2 linked regions of the Homo sapiens genome follow. The protein of the gene in region 2 interacts with the protein of the main gene of each other region in a pairwise test. Each region holds a gene or a part of one and is shown on either strand. Other genes may lie near its edges.

The links. Proteins that work in one complex are often made in the same cells at the same time.
Region 1: the proteins of NOPCHAP1 (region 2) and BMX interact in a two-hybrid assay, tested with the Homo sapiens proteins (one large-scale study listed by BioGRID and IntAct).

The regions. Positions count from the first base shown.
Region 1 is NC_000023.11:15,552,807-15,556,406, reverse strand, and holds part of BMX (cytoplasmic tyrosine-protein kinase BMX), read right to left. Parts: intron 335-3,600; coding exon 260-334; 3' UTR 1-259. UniProt on the Homo sapiens protein: Non-receptor tyrosine kinase that plays central but diverse modulatory roles in various signaling processes involved in the regulation of actin reorganization, cell migration, cell proliferation and survival, cell adhesion, and apoptosis.
Region 2 is NC_000012.12:104,984,816-104,988,415, reverse strand, and holds the start of NOPCHAP1 (NOP protein chaperone 1), read right to left. Parts: upstream 2,101-3,600; 5' UTR 2,064-2,100; coding exon 1,949-2,063; intron 250-1,948; coding exon 163-249; intron 1-162. UniProt on the Homo sapiens protein: Client-loading PAQosome/R2TP complex cofactor that selects NOP58 to promote box C/D small nucleolar ribonucleoprotein (snoRNP) assembly. Acts as a bridge between NOP58 and the R2TP complex via RUVBL1:RUVBL2.

The DNA of each region.
Region 1 (3,600 bases), on a different chromosome or scaffold from region 2:
ATATTGCAGTCTGAAAATGTGCTTCTGCTATAGGCTGGAAAGTGTTATATCAGGAGCAGCATAAACAAAATTACTAATTTGATCTAAATTTCAAGGGAATCTTTTGTTTCCTGCCTTGTTCATTTCTAAATAATAGACAATACAGAGAACACTATTAAAAACTAGCTAAATTACATTATGCCTTGCTACTTTCCTTAAAATGAATGAAAATGCTGGCCAGCATCTATATTCATTCTTATCAGCACTCCTAATTTCTTCTTCAATGCTTGTCTTTTTCCCGAAGTGGTTCAATGGAAGACAGGAGTTGCTGAAATGTGGGACGCTTTTCTGGAAGCTAAACAAAAACAACAAGAAACCCAATGTTTTAGATGATGAGAGTTATGATCAATGATAAAATATATAAAATATTTACATCTAAGTCCTAAAGCTAGCAACTTTTAAAATGTGGAAACACAACAGACATTTCAATTGAGGTCAGAAATAAGGCAAGGACGCTCACTATAATAATCACTCTTAACATTATGTTGAAGGTGTTAACCAATGCAATTGGAAAGCAAGAACAATTAGAGCCCCAATAACTGGAAAAGAAAAAGTCTCTTTATTTGCAAGCATTTTAGTGTATACCTGGAAAATCTGAGAGTATCAATGTTAGAACAGACTTAAAGAATAAAGGAATTCACTAGGAGAGCAGGATATAAAATTAACATACAAAATCAATAGCCTTCACATATACCTACAGTAACCACTTAGAAGTTATCATGTAAGAGAAAACCCCATTTATAATAGCAACGCCACCAAAATAAAACACTAAAAAAGTGTGCCCCTCTAAAATGGGGACGACTTTAAAACACTGCTGAAAAATGCAAATGTAGACTTGACTATATAAAAAAGCATCCCTGGCCAGGCGCAGTGGCTCACGCCTGTAATCCCAGCACTCTGGGAGGCTGAGGTGAGTGGATCACTTGAGGCCAGGAGTTCGAGACCATCCTGAACAACATGGCGAAACCCTGTCTCTACTAAAAATACAAAAATTAGCCAGCTGTGGTTGTGCACAACTGTAGTCCAAGCTACTCGGGAGGGTGGGACATGAAAATCACTTAAGCCTGGAAGGTGGAGGTTGCAGTAGGCCTAGATCATACCACTGCATTCCAGCCTGAGTGATAGAGCAAGACTCTGTCTTAAAAAAAAAAAAAAAAAAAAAAAAAGCTTCCCTCGTTCTAGACTAGGACAAGTCAGTATCATAAAGATGTCAAATTTCCCAACTTAAAATACAAACTAAATACAATCTCCTCAAAAATATGAATGAGTTTGTTTCAAGCTAAACAAATTGATTCTTTGGTTTATAGAATTAAAAAATATGTAAAAATGGCTAAGAAATTATACAGTAAGGTGAGCAATGAGGGGTGCTAGCCTACCTAGTATTCAAACATATCATAAAGTCTCTACAGAATCAGAGCAGTGTGGTGCTAGCACATGAACAAAGAGACCAAAGAACAGAAGAGGAAGTCTCCAAATAGATTCAAGTACATATGGAAATTTAGTATAATATTAGGGTGGCATTTCACCACCATTAAGGTGGTATCTCATTCCTGATGATAAGATGGTCTTTTAATAAATAGGGCTGCCAACAACAGAATAGTCACATAAAATTATATATTTGGAGCCATATTTAATACCATATACCATAACAAACACAAACTATATCAGAAACATAAATGGAAAATAATGCAATCTTAAAAGTACTAGAGGAAAATCCTGGCAAAAGTCATTATAATTTGGGCATGAGAAAGCCTATCTATGACAATTTCCAGAAGCAATGAAAACAAATATTGATATATTCAGCTATATTAAGAAAAATTTCTGCATGGTCAAAAAAAGAAAAAAAAACCCACCCACCCTCAATCAAATAAAGCTGATAACTTAAAGTATTACTCTCCCTAATTTGTAAAGAGATCTTTAAAACCTGACAGAAAAAAGAAAAAAGACATGACAGTTCAGAAAGACACAAAATGACCCTTAAAAACGTGAAAAGAGGCTCAACCTCATAATGAAAGATATATATATTAAAGCTGCACTAAGATGCCATCAAGCTTTCACTTATCAGATTGGCAAGAATTCTTCAAAAGCTTGACAATGCACTCCATTGGTGAGGTTATAAGAAAATAGGTACCCTCTTACATTGCTAGTGAGGCAACGCCTATGGAGAGGAGAAGTTCATATGCTACTTTTTCTTTGTAAGAGAGAAAGGGAAGCAAGAAAACACACATCTATACATATGCTTGTTTTTGCATACAGAAATACCAGAAGGATGAATCAAAATCTAATGAAAATTGTGAATGTTCTTTCAATCTCTTTATGAATTGAGAAAGTCACAAAATAAAATCTAAAAAAGGAGGGAAAACCCAAATCTATAAGCTCTGCTCATTAGGTGCAATGTTTTAACTGGATATTGTCGTCTCAGTGCAAACCCCTCTTCACAGATTCTGCCACAATTCACATGCTTTTATGAACCAACCATGAGAAGAAGGCAGTTCCTCCCGACTCAGGGCCCCTGTCCATCCTATGGTGCAGTCATATTCCCAGGAGCTAGAGTAGGGAGGGCCAGGGAGGTTCTGGGCTTCAACTGAAAAACCCTTGTCTGCTCTTCTTCATCTGACAGGTGACAGCAGTAAGTCAGCCTGGCTGTGACCAACTCTACCCAGACCCAGTCTGACCCTCTAGTGCTGCCTGATAATCTTAGACACAATATTTTTGTTTGTTTGTTTCTTTAAAAAGCCTTTATTCATTTTTTAATCAGGGAAAAGGACAATCTCAATGTCAATTTGTCACCTAATCATAAATTTGAACTTACAGGATTCGCTACCCTAGACACTGCACCTACTGACAACACACAACTTAAAAATGAACTTCCTTCCATTCCCTAAAGTTAGATAGTTGCATGTTGAATGAATAAACAGAATCCCTTCCAACAGCTAACATTGGTACTTGGCCTAGGTGTAAGGACAAATAGCGAAACAGCAGCAAAAAAGACCAAGAGCATTGTAACTTGATAGCCCAGCAAGTACAATCATTGTAACAAAGTTGTAGGCACCAAATTAAAAAAAAGCGGGGGCTCATCAGCATAAGAAACTTACACCAGTTTTGTGAGAGCACTCGTTGTGTGAGATCAACTACTCTGCCTGTGAACACATATGCCAATCCCAGTAGCTAACATTGAGGCAAAGGTCCCAAAATCCAACTAACTACACTGAATGCAAAATCCAAAGCTTTTATTTATCCAGGTCCTCTGAAACCTGGATATAAAACAGTTTCTTTTCAATGCACCATGAGGGTCCACTGTAATGATTCAGTCACATTTGGATTGAGTAACGCACCTAAGATACCTTTTCCACTATTCCTGTCTGAATACGGAAATGTTTAACTACTCAGTTCATGCACTAACTGTGTTAAAAGTTAGATTTACTATCAAGACTTTTTCTAAACTCACACAGCATTAACAGTTAACTGTAATACAGCTTCCTCAGAATGCCCAAACAGAAAATATTTTGTTCAGTCTTGTGGTGGCTGTGAGAAAACAAAATACAACTAAATCTTATTTTG
Region 2 (3,600 bases):
TTCCATTCTGTGTACTGACTTTATCATGTAAATCCCAAGTAGGACTTGTTCCACTGGACTATCTGTGGTTTGATACCTGACAATGAAGGCAGAGACCGTCCCACAGCTTAATCAGACAAAACTCAGCATTAGAGAGGGTGAGAGAGGGGAAGAGGTACTTACAGGGACTCCTCTCTATCCGAACTGTTTGAAGAGTGGAGGTCTTTCTGGACTTAGGTTGGGAGTTGATGAGCAACCTGTCCCATATACCTGAAAATACAGACACACAAACACCCTTAATTTACTACAGCATAAAAAAACAAAGGCCCATCAGTAAGCCTCTCACATGACCAGTCTTAAGACTTGACTGTCCACACTCCCCCAAAATTTTTTTTTTAAAGGAGAACTCCAAGCTCCATTACAACATTTTAATTCTTTATGTACAGCCAGCCACCTCTCCTTTCTTACATCTGTCTCATTCACCTCTATCACCAATGGCAGGTAATAAATGCACACCAATCTGCACTTTTCTGGATCAGAAATTCATTAGCAGACAAACGTGGGTCTGCAATGACAGAACGGAGGAAACAGTACAGAGCATAACAATGGTTAAGTGAAGCCAGAAATGGTTACTAGTTGTGTAACACTGGGCAACTTACCTGATCTTCAAGCATTTGTTTCTTCATTAGTAAAACATGCTTGCCTGGTATTTCCCCTTCCCTGAAGACGTTCAACCCAAGGAAAGCAGCCTTTTGGGGATTTTGTCACCCACTCTACCTTTCCAGCCTCATTTCTCACTACTCAAATCATCCCAACTCTCTATCCCATCAGAGTTCCAAGAGGGGAACGTACAAAACTCAAGGCTTTGCACACCCTATTTCTAATACCCGGAAAATCCCTTAACTCTCTGGTTAAAAAACAAATCCTGTTCACCTGCAAAGCAGAGCCGCAACAAACATCCATTGAATGCCTACTACTTAAGGCCTACTGGATTCGTGATCAGAGCACAGAGTCTGGAGCCAGACTACTTGAATTCAAGTCCCAGTTTTGCTACTTTCTAGCCACATGATCTCCAGAAGGTAAATTACCTGTATGATAAATCATGTCTCAGGTTCCTCAACTATAAAACAGAGATAACAGATTTTCTGCAAAGGGTTGTTGTGAGGATTAGATGAGTTAGTTTCTGGGGCATACATAGTAAGGACTACATAAGCTTTGGTTATCATTATTATACTTCCTTCGGAATCTCTGGGTTCTCACAAAACCTTTTCTTCAAGCTAGTATTTACTGACAACATGCCCAAGCCTTTTTAGGCATTCTCCTCCTCACAAAAATTCTACAGGCATTACTACTATCACCATTTTCCAAATGCAAAAACTGAGGCTTAGGGAATGAAAATAACTCTAAGTCCCACCAGTTAATTACTAGTGGAGCTGGGATTCGAACTCGTGCTTTTAAATTCTACCTATAGTGTCTGAAATGCTGTGTGGATTTCCTGGATGCATGTCTCCCTCTACAAGACAGCAGCACTAAGGGGTGGTCTGTGTGGGTGTGAAAGAGGTAGGGACTGTTAGCATAATATTACTCCGCTTCCCCCTATCAGCCAACTGCTCCGACCCAGGCAGCCAAACCAAAAGCCCTCCCTTCCCCAAAAGAACTCGAGAGCTTCCCAGCTTCCAGGGCAGGGCAGATGCCTGGCAGCGGCGCCTGGCAGGGTGGGCGCTCACTACCTTGCAGAATATAAGAACCACTAGCTGGGGAAACCATTCCGGGCCCGCAGCCGGGTGCCCGCCCCAAAGCCCCCACCCCTGCCGCGGGCAGGGCACGCCGGAGCCCCGCAGCAGTCCCCGGGGCTCCCCTCGAGGGTACGGAGCCCGGGCAGGGAGCCACCGGCCGGCTCCCAAACTGCACCGGCCGCGCCTCCTCTGCCGCACGTGTGCGGCCCATGCCGCCGTCACCCGTCCGTCACCTCCGCGGCCGTCGCTTCCCGCCGTCAGCAGCTCCTTGGACACTGGGACTCCTGAGGAATCCCGGGTGGGCGACGAACAACTCGGGCTAGCCTTGGGCTTGCCATGGACCTCCATGCTTCCCTCAAGCCTGCACTCTCAGGCCCGGATGCAGGAAAAAGGCTCGGGTAAGGGGGCGGGGAGAGGGCCGCGATTGGAGGAAACTGCGGTGGGCGGAGTAAGGAGCGGAGAGAGAGGCGGGGCGAGCGTGGTGCAGCCTGGAGGCTGCGCGGGAGCAGGGGCCATTCCTACTCCTGGGAAAAAGAAAGGTTCAGACACTGTCATAGGAAAAAACAGCGGGCAAGGCTCGATTTCGCCAAATTCGGGCATAAAGAGCATAACATTAGGCTTCCCTCCTCTTTATCCTTTTTTATTAAATTTTTTTTTAATTGGTGAAAAAACACGTAACAAAATCTACCATCTTAACCATTTTTAGTTGTACAATTCAGTGGTGGCAGACCTCTAGATCATTTTCATCTTGCAAAACTGAAACCTTATACCCATTTACCCCTACTCCAGTCCCTTGGTAACCACCATTCTACTTTCTTCTTTGTTTCTTTCTTTTTGAAACAGCCTTGCTCTGTCGCCCAGGCTGGTGCCTCAGCCTCCCAAGTAGCTAAGATTACAGGTGCACACTACCACGCCCGGCTAATTTTTGTATTTTTGTATAGAGACGGGTTTTCACCATGTTGGCCGGGCTGATCTTGATTTCCTGACCTCGGGAGATCCACCCACCTTGGCCTCCCAAAGTGCTGGGATTACAGGCGTGAGCCATCATGCCCAGCTACCATCGTTCTACTTTCTGTTACTATGAGCTTGACTACTTCAGATACATTATGTAGGTGGAATCATACAGTACTTGCCTTTTTGTTACTAATTTCACTTAAAATAATACCCTCAAGGTTTAGACATGTTGTAGCACATAACAGGATTCTCTTCTTTTTTAAGCCTGAATAATATGCCATTGTATGTATATACCACATTTTCTTACCATTGATCTCTCAACAGGCGTGCTGGTTGCTTCCACCTCGTGGTCATTGTGAACGCTGCTGCAATGAACATGGTGGTACAAATATCTCTTAGAGACCCTGCTTTTCAATGCTTTGGGATACATACCCAGACATGGGATTACTGGATAATAGGGTAATTCTACTTTTTAGGTTTTTGTGAAGCCTCCGTATAGTTTTTCATAGTGGCTGCACCATTTTACATTCCCACAGTGCACAAGAGTTCCAATTTCTCCACATCCTTGTCAATATTTCCTTTTTCTGTTTGGTTGCTTCTTTCTTTTTGACAGTGAGCATCCCAGTGAGTGTGAAGTGATATCTTGAAGTTTTGGTTTGCATTTCTCTAATGATTTAGTGATGCTGAACACCTTTTCATGGGCTTGTTGGCCATTTATATATCTTCTTTGGAGAAATGACTATTCAACTCCTTTACCCATTTTTTAATCTGGTTATTTGTGTTTTTGTTGTTGAGTTGTAGGAGTTATTTATATATTCTGGATATTAACCCTTTATCGGATATATGATTTACAAATATTTTCTCCCATTCTGTAGGTTGCCTTTTCACTCTATTGCTTCCTTTCCTGTTTGTTCTTTTAACAGTCTTTATT